2 separate regions of the Homo sapiens genome follow, and region 1 is linked to region 2. A link means that fine-mapping ties the variant in region 2 to the expression of a gene that starts in the linked region. Tissue or cell type: whole blood. Region 2 holds a variant in brackets; the other region holds the start of a gene. All regions are shown on one strand. Distances are between the middles of the regions.

Region 1 (8,093 bases), 160 kb before region 2:
GCATAAGAAACTGCCAAACCATTTGCCAGAGTAGCTGTTCTATTTCACAATCCAACCAATGATGTATGAGAGTTCCAGTTGCACCACATTCTTGTCAACACACACTATTGTCAGGTTTTTGTATTGCTTTGTATAGCCATTCTAACAGATGTGTAGCAGCATCCCATCATGGTTTTAACTTACATTTCCCTAATGGCTAATGACATTGAACATCATTTCATGTTCTTATTTGCCTTCTATATATCCTTTTTGGTAAGTATCTCTCAGTCTTTTGCCCTTTTTTTTTTAACTTGGCTTTTTGTTTTCATGATTGGGTTTTGAGAGTTTTTTATATATGCTGAATACAAGTCCTTTGTTGCATCTGCAATTTGAAAATATTTTCTCCCAATCTGTATCTTGTCTTTTCATCCTCTTAACAGTGTCTTTCCCAAAACAAAAGTTTTAAATCTTTTATAAAGTCCAATTTAGTAATAGTTTCTTTTATGGGTTGTGCTTTTGGTGTCTTGTCTAAGAACTCTTTGCTCAACCCCAGGTTACAAAGATTTCTCCCATGTTTTCTTTTTAAAAATACTATAGTTTTACATTTTACATTTAGATCTATGATCCATTTTGAACTAATTTATGTGTAAGAAATGAGGCTTAGGTTGAGTTCATTTTTTGCATATGGGTGTCCAATTGTTCCAAGACCATTTGATGAAAAGGCTGTCCTTTCTCCATTAAATTGCCTTTGCACCTTTGTCAAAAATCAAAGGACCATATTTGTGTGGATCTATTTCTGAACTCTATTCTATTTCAATTTTCTCTGTCTATCCTTTTGGCAAACCACACCTGCTTGATTACTGTAGTTTATGTTATTACTGTAGGTAACATGACTGTTCCAACTTTACTGTTCTTTTGCAAAATTTTTTTGGCTATTCCAGTTCCTTTGCTTTTTCAATAAATTTTAGAGTCAGCATGTCTGTATCTATTTAACATTCTTACTGGGATTTGTATTGGAATTGCACTGAATTTATAGATCAACCTGGGAAAAAAAGGATGGTTTTTAAAAGACACTTGATTTCTAGAATGTATAAAGAATTCTTACAATTCAATAACTAAAAGGCAAATAATCCAATTTAAAATGGACAAAGAACCAGAATAGACATTTTTCCAAAGAAGATCTATAAATGGCCAATATGCATGTAAAGATATATTCAGCATCATTAGTCATCAGGGAAATACAAATGAAAACCACAACGAGATATCACTTCACATGCATTAGGATGGCTAGAGTCAAACACAGAAAACAGCAAGTGTTGACAAGGACATGGAGAAACTGGAATGCTTATACACTGCTTATGGGATTGTAAAGTGGTACAGCTGCCATGGAAAACAGTCTGGCAGTTCCTCAAAAGAGTAAACATACAGTTATCATAACCCAGCAATTCTATTGCTAGGCATATCCCCAAAAGAAATAAAAACAAATGTCCACATAAAAACTTGTATACTATATTCATCGCAACATTAGTCATAATAAGCCAAATGTTCATCAATTGATGAATAAATAAAACATGGTCTATCCATACATTGGAATATTATTCAGCAATAAAAAGAAATGAGGTACAGTCATCCCTTGGTGTCCACGAATGATTGGTTCCAGGACCCCCTGTGGATACCAAAATCCATGGATGTTGGAGTCCCTTATGTAAAATGACAGTGTTTGCATGTGACCTACACACATCCTGTACACTTCAAAACATCTCTAGATTATTTATAATACAGTGTAAATGATGTGTAAATAGTTGTTTACTATATTATTTAGGAAATAACAGCAAGGAAAAAAGTTTGTACATGTTCTGTAACCAACCCTTATTTTTTCAAATGTTTTCAATTCATGGTTGGTTGAATCCATGAATGCTGAACCCACAGGTACTGAGGGCTGATTGTACTGATACATGCTACAATACATACGAACCTTGAAAATATTATGCTAAGTGAAATACCACATATTACATGATTTCATTTATGTGAAATATCCAGAATAAGTAAATTTATAGAGACAGAAAGTAGAGTAGTGGTTTCCTTGTGCTGGAGACATCAGGAGAAATGGAGAGTGAATGGTAGTGAATACAGACTTTCTTCATACATATATATACATACATATATATATATATATATATATGTCCACACAGAAACTTGTACACTAATATTCATCACATTAGTCTATATATAATATACAGTTATATATATTGTTAGATATATTTATATATATATAAAACATTGGTCTATATATAGAGACTATATATATAGACTATATAAAGACTATATATAGACTATAGAGAGACTATATATATAGAGAGACTATATATAAATATATATATATATAGAGAGAGGGACAGACAGAGTCTCACTCTGTTACCTATACTGGATTGAGATGGCACAATCATAGCTTACTGCAGCCTCAAACTACTGGGCTCAAGTGATCCTCCCACCTCAGCCGCCAGAGTAGCTGGGACTACAGTCATGTACCACCATGCCTGGCTAAAAAAATTTTTTTTTTAATTTTGTAGAGTCGAGGTCTCACTACGTCGTTCAGGGTGGTCTCAAACTCTCAGCCTCAAGCAATGCTCCCATGTCAGCCCCCCAAAGTGCTGGGATTGTAGGCTTGAGCCATCATGCTGAGCCTGAGACAGTTTCTTTTGGGGGTGAAGAATATGTTCTGGAATTAGATAGTGGTGATTGTTGCACAATTCTGTGTATATACTAAAAAACACTAAATTGTATACTTTAAAATGGTGGATTTTATGGTATGTTAATCATATCTTAATAAAGCTGTTATTAAAAAGGAGAAAGAAGAGAAGAAAGAGAAAAGGGGAAGAGGAAAAATAACTGGATCCTAAAGATAAGCTGTTAGCAGTGAAATTACCCGGTAAGGGGCTGGGCGTGGTGACTCACACCTGTAATCCCAGCACTTTGGGAGGCCAAAGCGGGTGGATCACTTGAGCTCAGGAGTTCGAGACCAGCCTGGGCAACATAGTGAAAATTTTTTTCTATAAAATTTTTAAAAATTATTTGGTAAATTCTTATATTTTTATGTATGTTGTCAGATGGGCCCAAATAAAATTAGTACTAATTCAAAATCCCACCAAGATTTTGACTAATGGTCAAAAACCCCACCTACATAGGAACAAAGCTTTATTTTTATTTATTCTCCCATATACTCCCATAACCCCATCCATCCAGAAACAATCATCACTAAAACCTTGGTGTAAATTCTTCCACTCCTTTTCCTTTCCTCTTCTATTTCTAGACATTTAAAATGCTTGAATGTATATATTTCAAACATAAGAACCATCATATTGTACACAAACTTCAGATCTCTTTTTTCTCTTAATGTGGTCTATGGACACATTATAGATCAGAGTCTTTTTTTTTTTTTTTTATGAGACGGAGTCTTGCTCTGTCACCCAGGCTGGAGTGCAGTGGCATGATCGCAGCTAACTGCAACCTCCACCTCTCGGGTTCAAGCGATTCTCCTGCCTCAGCCTCCCGAGTAGCTGGGACTACAGGCACGCATCACCACACCTGGCTAATTTTTGTATTTTTAGTAGAGATGGGGTTTCACCATGTTGGCCAGGCTGGTCTCGAACTCCTGACCTCGTGATCCACCCACCTTGGCCTCCCAAAGTGCTGGGATTACAGGCGTGAGCCACCGCCCCCAGCCATCATTTTTTTTTAAGTTGCAAAAAAGAGTGTTCCATTTTATGGATTTACCGTAAGAAATAATGAAAATTCATGTTGTAGTTTACAATTATGTAAGTGCACATATTTATACATATATCTTTGGACACTTTTATGCTTATTTCCAAAACATAAACTCTTAGCAGTAAATTACTCAGTAAAATTCTATACACTTTTGATATTTTTATGGACATTGTCAGATGAGCCAAATAAAATTAGAACTAATTTAAAATCCCCTCCAAGAGCATTAGAGTACATTTTTCTCTGAACTGGGGCCAACAGATATAAACACTTTGAAAAATTTTGAAAGAGGCCTCTTAAGAGAAGAACTTCTCTGTTTTGGTGAATAAATCTGGTTCAATTTTCTTACCTTCAGCCTCCGCCATTGTCAGCTCCGCCAAACAGGAGAGAATTAAGAGGGTCAATGGCATGAGCCTTCTTACAAGCTCCATTTTGGCAAGGCGCTGGGCAGCCTTAAGGACCGACAGCTTTTATAGGCTCTGTGTTACATCAGCTTTCTGGACACCTCCAGGGAAACGTCAGTTCCAGCCACGCAAGGGGTAGATTTGTGTGAGAATAGAGCAGCTGTGTGACTGGTTTATCAGCATTCCCCACAGTGAGGGTTCTCTCTCCCCAACTCCTTCCTGGAAGGGTTGCCCCCAGTGGAAGCTCTCTGTAGGGATCTCCAGCAGCTGGTTCCCAGCAGGCACTGAGTTATTTTCCATGAAACTGATGGGGAGCTGTGCCTTTCTTCTGTGCCTGCACATCACAAACAGGTGGCCTCATTGACATCATTGAAGTCTTCAGGGCTCTGCTTTGAGAAGGGAGCCTGTGGGAGAACAAAGGCCTGTGGGGCAAGGCAGGGGGTGCAGCACCTGGGCAAAATCTGGGTCCAGCTGGGACATTCAGATGCCCTGCCAGGTGGCTGACCCTGTGGGGGAGGGGAAGAGGGTAGAGGATGAAGAGAAAAAGAGTGCAGATCCAGATTCCCCCACAGCGATTTCTAACCAGTTATGTCTGGAGAGACTGAAGCAGGTGAATTAGTCTCTCGGGCACGGTGTTTTGCAGTTGAGAGAAAGAAATCCTAGTGTCCACATTGAGATTGGGAGGAGCAAGTGGTGGTGGGTGGGGGCTGCCCTCTTTTCATTCATTCAGTCAGTAAACATTACTTATTGATCTAGGGCCTAAGCAATATAGAATTGAATGTGAGAGACACAGTCCTGCCCTCATGAAACTTGTATTCTAAGTGGAGAGTTAAACAACAAAAATAAATGAAGAATTCAACTGGTGAGAGGAGCTAAGGATACAATAAACAGGATGACTGCATAGATGGTGGTTGCCTTGGGGTGGGGAGGAAATATGACAGTGAGAAGGAGGGCATCTTGAGAGATGAAATCTGAACAAAGGCAGAAAGACAAGAGGGAGGCATTCATGGGTGATCTGAGCTTGGGGGCTGCATCTTAGGCAAAAGAGAGGGCAAGTGCACAGGCCCCGAGGCAGAGACCAGGTGGGCACACCTACAATAGTAGGGAATAAAGAACAGCCTGGCTGGTCATGAGTGGGAGGAGTGAGCTGGGAGGGGAGGATGGAGAGGAGCAGGTGAAGGTCAGATGGGGAAGGACCCATAGGGCAAATGAGTCTGGTTTTCACTCTAAGTTCAGGTGGAACATATTGAGTGGACAATGCCAGGACTGGCTACTTTCTGAAGAACCTTTGTGCAGCTCTGGGGAGGTCTGACGCTCGTGTAGGCTAAGTCTCCTAGGGTGAAACCCTCTGGCTACCGTCAGCCCCTCTGTGTTGTTCTGACTGTGCTGCAGCCCAGGAGGCCTCCCTAGGGAGAGCACAGTCCTACGTTGTGACCCAGGGGATCCATTCCTCGTTGGACCCTTGCAGGGGAAAGGCAGCACCTGGGATGCTCAGGAGGAGCTTGGACATACCCCAAGGCCCCTGCCTTGCTCTGCTCCATTCCTATCTGCCCGGGCTGGCTGTGGATGAGGCAGGACTGGGTGTCCTGGGGTGAGTTAGCAGGCCACAGGTGTTTGAGATGGGGGACCCTTCTGGTTACTAAGCGCTTGCAGCTGTGTCCATGGATACCCACTCCCACCCTGGGCTTTCCCTCTGAACCCCTCTTTGTCACCCATGGCTGGGATCTCCAACATCCCTAATCCATCTCCACTGAGTGCGAGAGTTTCATGGCCACACTCTGTTAGGTGGCCCTGGCAAAGGACCCAGGCTTCCAGATCCAGTCAGGAGAGAAGCCCCCTTCAGGCCTCTGGCAACTTCCTGGGGACCACGGGGTGCTGTGGGGTCACCCTGCATCATCTCATTGCTTCTTCTCTGTCACCTGTGCAAGTCCGCACTTCACATCAAGGACACAGAGGCTCAGATGAGTCAAGGGACTTCCCCTGGTGAAGGCCGAATTGGGATGGGAACCGGCTCCATAGGGCTCTAAAGCCCATGTGCGGTGCTCTGTCCTCCTGCTAATGGGGGTGTCCTGAAGACCTTTGTCCCACCTCCCTCACGGCCCCCGCAATACCTGCACCAGGTATAGTCACCCACATGGGGAGGCCCTGGCACAGGCGTCCTGGATCCAGGCACTGGGCCACCCACTGGGTGGGGTAAGAGGGGATTTGTATGTGCTCCATCTGTCAGAGCTGGCTGGTGACAAGAGAAAATCAAAGGCAGGGGACAGAGACAGTGCCCGGAAACTTAAGGGGGACAGGTGACCTCCAGCTGGAGGCTGCCCTGACTTGGCCTCTTCCCAAGCATGCTGGGGCTGGAGGCTCAGCCTCCAGGAGGTGCTCGGCGTCTACAGGCAGCTCCTCCACCCACATCTGGCCTGTTTCTGTGCCTAGCTGTCACAGCTGTTTCCTTCATTTGCGACTTCTGTTTTCCTTTTTACCCCCTTTTAGTAGATTACCACCTGTTACTAGCTAATAATTCTTTACATTCAGTATACATGTGATGGTCACAAGCAAGGGTTTAGTTCATGAGAGGAGTGGACATGGCGGTTACAGATAGGGAATCATGCTTAGAAAGGGGTTCCAGGAGGCTCAGGGGCAGGAGCTGGAACAGAAGGCAGCTGGGAGTAAAGTGGGGAGGAGTGCTTCCTGCCACCTGCTGTTGTGGTCAGGGAGTCTGGGCTTTGGCCTTTGGCTGGTGGTTCGTGTTACAGTTGAAGATGTTGATGGCTGGATCAACACACATCACTGTTACCGTAATCCACGCAGGAGCCACATGCTCTGGAGATTTGGGGATTGCAGTAGGAAGAAACTGGTTTTCAAAAGGTCCTTTTGAGGTCACTGAGCTCAGGCCTATCTTACACAGGTCAGACAACTTTAACACAGGGAGGTCCTGCCTGGCTCCTCTCACTGTCTTGGATAAATGGACAGGACAACAGGACAGGTATCAGGACATGACACCATTTTCTGCGGTGGATGTCAACCATCCAAGCCCTCACGAGAGCTAAACGAGCGACTCCAGCTGGACAAGATCAGCTGGGCTGAAATTGGAAGTGTCCTAAGAACAGTGTGCATTTTCCTTCTCGGGTGGGAGATGTGCTGGACACTTTTATTCCAATTCTCTTTCTTCTATTGCAATGCTACAAGCTAATCCCCCCCCACATTCCAAAGTGAGTAATAAATATATTTAAACAAAGGATGTTTATAATCAACAATCAAAAAATATTGGCAGCAAAGAGGATTATTTTTAATAGTGTACATTTATTCAAAAGTATATAAAACAACACTGTAAATTATATAATCTCACATAAAAACACTAGAACTTGATTTGAATAACAAAACAATCTACTAAGAAGTATTGCTCATGAAGATTTTTGTGCCCACCTTTCCTAACTCAGAGGCCCTCATTTATGTCGCAACAGCAAGGTGGCAGGGAATCAAAACTGGCACACATTCTATATCCTTCACAGCACTGCAGGGCAGGACAAGACTCCGTGGCAATGGTTTTGGCCTGGCTGTTCTTGGCCCACCACACCTTGTCTGGGTTGTGATTTTTTACAGCCACAGCTTCAGGTTCCTTTGCAGCTCTTGAGAAAAGACACACACAAAGCACAGGCTTAGAATTTTTCTTCTCAGCCCTTTTGTTAGAACTGTTGGGGGGTATCTGGGGAGTTTAGTGCTGAAGCCAGTCAAACATGAACACCAGCCCTACATTAAAGCTCTCTCCCCCATCCCAAGTTCCTCTCGAATCCTTTCCTCTTCTATGATTGCTATAAATGTAAACTGAGGTTACAAAAGCAAGAGTGAGTGATTTTGCAAGCAAGGTCACCCAACTGGTCACTGCAGGCCCCCGAGATGCAGGAATGATGGGAAGGTGCTGCATTTGGCTGTGTCCCAGGCTCCGGGATGTGC
Region 2 (8,107 bases):
ATCCCAGCACTTTCAGAGGCTAAGGTGGGAGGACTGCCTGAGCTCAGGAGTTCAAGACCAGTCCAGGCAACAGAGCGAGACCTCATCTCTAATTTTTAAAAGAAAAAAAAAATTTCTGGAACTACAAAAGACTTCCTCTTATAGAAAGAAAATAAAGGTTTTCTATCTGAGCCATTTTCCTGTCTTTGATGTAATTATCATCAGTCTCAAGTCTCAAAGTTTAATCTAGGAACTCCACAAATTAACTGATACCCAGAGATGCCTCTAAGGCATTGATAAATTTTAAAACCTTTGCAAACATAACAAAATATACTTTAGAAAATCCACAAGCTATAATTTTTTTAGTGGTATCTTTCCTATACTGGACATGAACTCAATACCTTGGTGTTTGTTAGCCAAAAAATTACTTACTTAACACAAAATTTCAATGTATGATATCATGTCATCTGAACAAGAAATATACTTAAGTATTCTCCAGTATTATTACAGATGTGGGTGGTGTTATTACAACTCAGATGTACTCTTTCTGCTGGTATCGTCATGGACTGAATGTTTATGTCCCCAAAAGCTGATATGTTGAAATTCTAACCCCCAATTTGATGGCATCTGGAGTGGGGCCTTTGAGAAATAATTGGGTTGTAAAGGTGAAGTCCTCTAAATGGGATTAGTGCCTTGTGAAGAGATCCAGAGATCTTGCTTCCTCTCTGCTCTTTGCCATGAGAGGATACAATCAGAAAGCAAGCCCTCCCCAGATACCTGATCTGCTGGCACCTTCATATTAAGATTTCCCAGCCTCCAGAACTGTGAGAAATAAATGTTTGTTTAAACCACTCAGTCTATGGTAATTCGTTACAGCAACCTGAACTAAGATATCTAATCATATCAACCAAAGAGAACAATATCCCCATACTTTATGATGATTGTTCCTTATGATATAGCAAAATTCCCAAATCCTTCCTGTGATTATTCTGATTAAAGTTAAGTTGAATATAGTATGGAATTCCATGGGGTGTAGGTGGATATCTATATAGAAACTGGCTAGGGTATACCTAAAGTATTGTCATGCCAGTAGCGTCCCCCAATTTATTATTCAAGGCTCAAAATCAATGCTTTCAGAAAACAACCAGAGGCTATGCAAGCCGGTAGGGGGAAAAGAGGTATAAGAGAATTAAGCTTTGATATCCCAAAGAACAGGAAAACCTCTACCTCAAGTAGGTAATTTAGGCTAATTTCCGATCTTCCTTGGTTTCTGATAAAGGATTTATTTTGTATGAAGTCGTCTGATCTTTCTTCTTCAGTCTCATAAATGGGAAGCTGTTGATCAATGCAAGCATATATACAAGCACACACACACAATTACATGTGTGTATATATGTGCACCCCCCCCAGCCTCTTAACCAGTAGCTAATAATTTAAAACACAGGCACTGAAATGCAAATTAGAAGGCATTCACAACTATGAAACAACCAGAGAAGAAGCTCTCTAACCTATCTTCCTTCTTCCTTCTATCTTTTTTATAAACTGTGGGAGAATTTTGAGAACATGATTAGGGAACAGCAGGATATGTTTCGTTCACCTAGCATTCATGAGAAGTCTTACTTCTCATAGGTAACCATAAGGAAGAATACAATATTAGCAACTAATTTACTTACATAATAATTTATGGGTAAGGCAGGCCTATACACATAAAGTGATTACAGTTCAATAGATGTGTTTACCCTCCATAGCCTAATAATTATGGTCACTGAGATTTACTCTGCTATAGAACACATATAAACAGACAACGTTGACAAATAAGGATTGGTTTCTATGGAGTAACATGGGCCTTCCAAAATAATTGGAACACAATTCCTGATTTCAGAACTGTCAAAAACTCTTGAAGGCAAAAAAAGAAATTATGAGGCTCTGAGAAATCAGAAATCAAAACATAAAAATAAAACATAAGTAAAACCATGTTGAAAGAAATCCAGAAGAGAAATTATACAATCTAACCTTTTCACCCCAAATCTGTTCCTCCTTTTTCTTGCCACTCCAACATTGATGAAATGTAGAGTAATTGAAATTTACTTCGGAGATACAGCAAGGGACTCCAAAAGGCCATGGAGAGAGAATTTCAACTAAAATTGAAAAGCCATACAGAGGTCTGCATAAAAAACAAACAGCACACCACAAATCAAAACCTTTAAGATAAAAACTTAATTAGCATCTACAGGTTGAATGAGCTAGTAACTTATGCCAATCTTATCATTACATTAGCTGAAAAGAAAACGAACTGACAGATTAATCAAAGAACAAAGCAGTAGCTTCACTTCAGCAAAAGCTCCATAGGATCACCAAAGAATAACTGGTGTGACTACCGTTTTCTCACTGGTGGATTAGTTTTTGGCAAGATTTTTAATGTCTAAATTTAAGTTAAACTTCAGTTTAAAGAAATTAAGATTAACTTCATTTAGTCACAGCACACTTCCAAAACGGTCAAGCTTAGTACTGCTGAACAGCTGTAGTTGCATAAAAACAACGCATAGTCCTAAGTAGGGAAATGGGAAAGGGCTTTAAATACAAAAACAAAAAAAACATGCACACCCGATAAGGGCACATCTGAATCCCATCCTTCTTATCCTATCATAACACAAAACAGCTACGGTTTTCTGGGAAACATCCTGGACCGCTAGGGGAAAATAACACCAGACATTTCAATTCACTGTAACGAACTCTCATCAATAATAATAACCTTTAGCTGTTGTGACAACACGACATAAATCAAAATTAAATTGAATTTTTAAAATTGTTAGTTCCTACGTTTAAAAAAAAGTTGTTTTAAATACATTCTGTTCTTTCAAAACTGAATTTCCTCAGATCACACAATTTAAGACGCCTTTATGTCTTCTTCCGCTTGTCACACGTCTTTCGGGTTCTGACCAGCACATCAAGGGGACTCTAAGCAGGCCACGTGGTTAGTGTTTGCTAGAACTTGTTTAGCTTCAGATCCAGTCATCGAGCATGCTAGGCTTGGCTACTCGCGCTCCACACAGTTTATCCAAAGATCTAAACCCCGAATGAACCTGAATAGTTATTTGCTACAATGTCTTTCTCAAATCTCACATGTTCCTAAAATAAGGGTGCCCATGCAGTAGAGACGGATCCGGGCAGGATCATTAGATAAAATACGAAGGCTTTAAACGTCCTTCTCCCAACAATCAGCCTGGGACCGGCGTCGGGGCAGCAGCCTCACCAAGATTCGGAGCGACATCCTCGCCAGGATTCGAAACACCTAGGAGACCCGCGCCCGGCTGACTCCCAGCCCCTGGGACCCCGTGAAGACGCAAACCTCGGGACGCCTCCCGCAGAACCACCTGTCAGAGCCAAGCAACAGTCCCCGCCCCGGAGCCTCCGAGCTCCTGCTCGAAGGCAATGACAGCAGGAGACCCCGCTCCCTCGGGGTTCTCGCGGCCATAGGCGCCGCAGTCCACTGCCCTCCGGCTAAAGAGGTCCCGGGCCATCACCTGCCCGCCTACCGACCACGCCCGACCCTCCACTGAACTGAGTCTCCGTCCGGATCAGCCGGCCCGCCACGAACCCAGCTCCAGTCTCCGGCCGCTCCTTCTTATCCGCCCTGTCCTGCCGCGTCGCCGCCGTCCGAGCCGGCAGCCTGCTACTTACCTCCTGACAACTGCATGGAGTAAACCACACCGCCTTGTTAAATGCCGTCGCCGCCGCCGCCGTCTTCGTCACCGTCACAGTCGCCGCCGCCATCTTTGTTGTGTCTCCGACTCCCTTCCCGCCCCCCTGCCTTGCTCAAGTCTCGCGTGAGCAGGATGGAGGGCGAAAGCGAGGAGGGGCCTGTTTGTCTCTCTTGGGGTTCCGTAGGCAGCAGGGGGCAGGGATTAAGGGGGGGTGTGTGCGGGGCGGGTACTGAGTGGGCGGGGCCTTGCTCGGGTAACTCCCAGGGGCTGGCTAGAGACCCAGAGGCGCAGAGCGGAGAGGCCTGCGGCGAGGATGGAGGGCCTGGCAGTGCGGTTGCTGCGCGGCAGCAGGCTGGTGAGTGCGTTCGAGGCTGGCGTCCTGGGGGCCCAGGGCGACCTTGGCCCCTGGAATCGCAGCTGGCAGAGCCTTCTAACGGGCCTCGGGGCGCCGGCCTGAGCCCCGCTCCACGTCCTGGGTCCCCAGACTCTTTACCCGCGGGCAGTCTATGACCCCGACCCCCTTCAGGCCTCTGGTGGAGGCAGCTGGTGGCAAGGGGGTCGGGGCTGTCTAGAAGCTGCTTTGGCGGAGCAAGTACCTTGAGTGGAGTCGGAGGGTCGCGTCCGCAAGATGTCCTTTGCAGGCCGTTGCGTCCTGAGAGCCACCGAGTCTGGATCTCTGGATCTCTGGATGCATTTTGCACAGATGTCACCTCCCTGATGCCCTAACGCACCTTTCCCGAGTGATTACATTTCACACCCCCTCCCCCAAAAAAGATAGTTAAAATATAGGCCCAGTCTCATTCTGAGCAGGTGTCTCCCTGTCCTTCCTTCCGCGGCCCCGCTCAAAGGTAGTAAGGGACTTCGGAGTTGTTCGGGCTTCCCGGCCAGGGACAGAGTTCCCTCTGCCCCTTATCTCATGTCTGGAGCCTGGGTATCTTCCGTGGATAGACTCACCGCCGCCCAGGGGAGCCGGAGCCGGTGCCG[G/A]TCCCTCTTCCATGAACTTAAGCTGAAACCAGCCTCTTGTTGTGCTTAATTCTTATCTGTGCACCCACACAAACTGTTAACAGCCCCTGTGTTAACATCCTATGCTCTTCACCCCTTGGACCTATTATATAGCATGCTTTTCAGAACATACACATTTGGATACACTTGTATTTGTCAGTACACTTCACTGGGAATTTTCCCACTGCTTACGTGTGCTTTTAATGTTTCCTTTGCATTTGCTTTAATGAGTTAGGCTTTCCAACTGCTGCTTCAGTCTTATGCCCAGAGGCAGAACTCTGACCCTTTTTCTTATTAGAGATAATTAATGTTATTTGACTGTTTTACAGGCCTGAAGTGCAATAAAAAACAGTAAGTGATTATTGTTTAATACTGTTTATAATTGTTGGTTAATAACTTAGCAAAGAAAATTTCTTTGGTTTTACAATTTGACTCTGTTTTAGAGCCAAAATTTATTGACCGCATACTCTGTGGTAGGCACGTTCTCGTTCTACCTGAGTCATCTCAATTCTCACAACCATCTTAACAAGTAGTTTAATCTTGCAGATGCTGAAAAAGAATAATAGCTTGCCCACAGATAGAAAGGGATAGAGCTGGTGGTATTCGAACTCTGGTCTGATTCTAAACTTAACCTTCATATACTACTGTCTCCCCGTCCTTAGAGATATCAAAAACCTATTTTGTTTGAACTTTTGGTTTATTGTGGCTTATAGTCCTTTATAGTTTTTGAAGCTCTTTTACATAAATTAGCTAAATTGATTGAACATCGACTGTAGCATAGTGGTTAAGAACGTAGGTTCTGTAGCTAGGCTGCTTGGATCTGAACCCAGGCCCTCTCACTTCCTAGTGGTATAACCTTGGACAGGTTATGCTTTGGGTCTCAGTTTCCTGGTCTGTAAATGGAGAGAATAATTGTGCGTATTCCAAAATTGTTGTGAAAATTAAATGAGCTCATATGTTCATGTAAGGCACTTAGAATAGTGCTCGGAATGTAGTCAGCTCTCGGTAAATATCAGCTCTTACTGCCATGCACGAAGCATTGTGTGCTATGCCAGATGTAATAATGAATAAAATACTCTACCTCCAAGAAGTTTATCTTTTAGAGGAAAGGTTAGAACTATGTGCAACTAACCCCATGTCATGTAGGTGTGGAACAAATCCTAAGGGGCTACAGTCTGCGTGCAGATTCAGAAGATAGAAATGACTAGGACCATTGGGGAAGTGATAGGCTCTTTGGAAGCTGGGTTAGAGTTTAGGAGGGGAAAGGAGTGGTCAGAAAACTGCAACAAAAGGGGACTGAGGCCACTTTAGGGAATTGGGGGTTGATCCTTTTGGATTGTTAGGAGCCATTGAAGGTCAAGAGCTTTGGAGTTTCCTCATGCCACAGTGTAGGTAGATGGCTGTGGACACAAGTGGCATGGAGTGGGGAGAAATGCAAGGTAGGGCTAATTTTGGTTTCTATCCAGAGGCAAATGGAAAGCTAGCATTTACTCACTTATTGTAGACCAGGGACAGCATTTTACACCCACTACCCTATTTACTCTTCCTGTAAACCTCTGAAGTAGGTATATTAGTGGCTTCATCTTGCAAATGAGGAACTCGGAGGCAATAACCAGTGTTCCCAAGTCACATAACAATCAGATTGCAATGCTGACCTTCAGCCTACCCCTGCCTTCTCAGAAGGTCTCTCCTAGTCCTGCAGATGGATTAGAACTGTCCTGCCCATTTGGTCTAAGCAACCCAATTAGTGGAGAATTGGACCTTGTAGTTAACCTGTGGTTCCAAAGCATTTTAATGTAGCTTGATATCTTTTTTTTTTTTTTTTTGAGACGGAGTCTTACTCTGTCGCCCAGGTTGGAGTGCTGTGGTGCGATCTCAGTTCACTGTAACCTATGCCACCCGGATTCGAGCGATTCTCCTGCCTCAGCCTCCCGAGTAACTGGGATTACAGGCGCCTGCCACCTTGCCTGGCTAATTTTTGTAGTTTTAGTACAGATGGGGTTTCACCATCTTGGTCAGCAAGATGGAAATGGTCTCAAACTCCTAACTTCATGATCCACCCGCCATGGCCTCCCAAAATGCTGGGATTACAGGCGTGAGCCACCACACCAGGCCGCTTGATGTCTTTTAAGAGATGATTTTTTTTTTTTTTAGACAAGTTTTCACTCTCTTGCCCAGGCTGGAGTGTAGTGGCGTGATCATAGCTCACCGTAACCTTGAACTCCTGGCTCAAGTGATTCTCTGACCTCAGCTCCCCGGGAGCTAGGACCACAGGCATGTGTCACTGCACCTGGCTAATTTTTAAAGTGTTTTGTAGAGATGAGGTCTCACTGTGTTGGCCAGGCTGGTCTGGAACTCCTGGCCTCAAGCGATCCTCCCACCTCACCCTCCAAAATGCTGGGATTACAGGCATGAGCCATTGCACCCAGCCAAGAGGTGATTCTTGACAAATATCCTTGACGTGAATTCTTGTTCAGTTAATTCTCTGGACATCTGCCAGACAGCAGCTGCCAAAATACATATAATTCTTGTTGTTTAACTTTTTGCTCTTCAACAAAACCAGAAGTATTTTTTCTGGACATATATTTGGCATCCAGGTAGAGAGAACACAAATGGTTTGAATGTGTCCCCCAAAATTCATGTGTTGGAAGCTTGATCCCCAGTGCGGAGGTTTTGAGTGGTGGGGCCTAATGGGAAGTGTTTGGGTCATAGTGTGTCCAGAATTGGTGGGTTCTTGGTCTCACTGACTTCAAGAATGAAGCCACGGACCCTCGCGGTGAGTGCTACAGTTCTTAAAGGCGGTGTGTCTGGAGTTTGTTCCTTCTGATGTTCGGATGTGTTCGGAGTTTCTTCCTTCTGGTGGGTTTGTGGTGTCACCGGCTCAGGAGTGAAGCTGCAGACCTTCACGGTGAGTGTTACAGCTCTTAAGGCGGCACATCTGGAGTTGTTCGCTCCTCCCGGTGGGCTTGTGGCCTCGCTGGCTTCAGGAGTGAAGCTGCAGACCTTCGCGGTGAGTGTTACAGCTCATAAAGGCAGTGTGGACTCAAAGATTGAGCAGCGGCAAGATTTATTGCAAAGAGCTAAAGAACAAAGCTTCCACAGTGTGGAAGGGGACCCGATTGGATTGCCACTGCTGGCTCGGCAGCCTGATTGGTCTGTTTTACAGACAGCTGATTGGATTGGTCTGTTTTGACAGGGTGCTGATTGGTGCATTTACAATCCCTGAGCTAGACACAAAAGTTCTCCACCTCCCCACTAGATTAGCTAGATACAGAGTGCTGATTGGTGTATTTACAAACCCTGAACTAGACACAGAGTGCGGATTGGTGCATTTACAAACCTTGAGCTTGATACAGAGTGCTGATTGGTGTATTTACAATCACTTAGCTAGACATAAAGATTCTTCAAGTCCCCACCAGATT

Evidence for each region. PIP is the estimated chance that this variant, and not a neighbour inherited with it, causes the effect.
Region 1: it holds the start of CUZD1, and the variant in region 2 is fine-mapped to the expression of CUZD1 in whole blood (TOPMed, PIP above 0.99).

What each region holds. Positions count from the first base shown.
Region 1 is chr10:122,841,672-122,849,764 of GRCh38, forward strand. It overlaps CUZD1 (CUB and zona pellucida like domains 1), which reads right to left and starts at 4,186. Exons shown (of 9, transcript NM_022034.6): 1 at 4,091-4,186. The coding sequence starts at 4,172. FAM24B (family with sequence similarity 24 member B) reads right to left here. Exons shown (of 4, transcript NM_152644.3): 4 at 7,407-7,768. The coding sequence ends at 7,576. FAM24B-CUZD1 (FAM24B-CUZD1 readthrough) reads right to left here. Exons shown (of 11, transcript NR_037915.1): 3 at 4,091-4,549. RefSeq lists enhancers at 3,974-4,475, 4,476-4,975, 5,042-5,923.
Region 2 is chr10:123,005,034-123,013,140 of GRCh38, forward strand. IKZF5 (IKAROS family zinc finger 5) reads right to left here and starts at 3,762. Exons shown (of 5, transcript NM_001372123.1): 1 at 3,661-3,762; 2 at 1,993-2,143. It overlaps ACADSB (acyl-CoA dehydrogenase short/branched chain), which reads left to right and starts at 3,973. Exons shown (of 11, transcript NM_001609.4): 1 at 3,973-4,038. The coding sequence starts at 3,997. RefSeq lists enhancers at 3,039-3,268, 3,549-3,878. The variant G/A (reference allele first, on the strand shown) is at 4,668.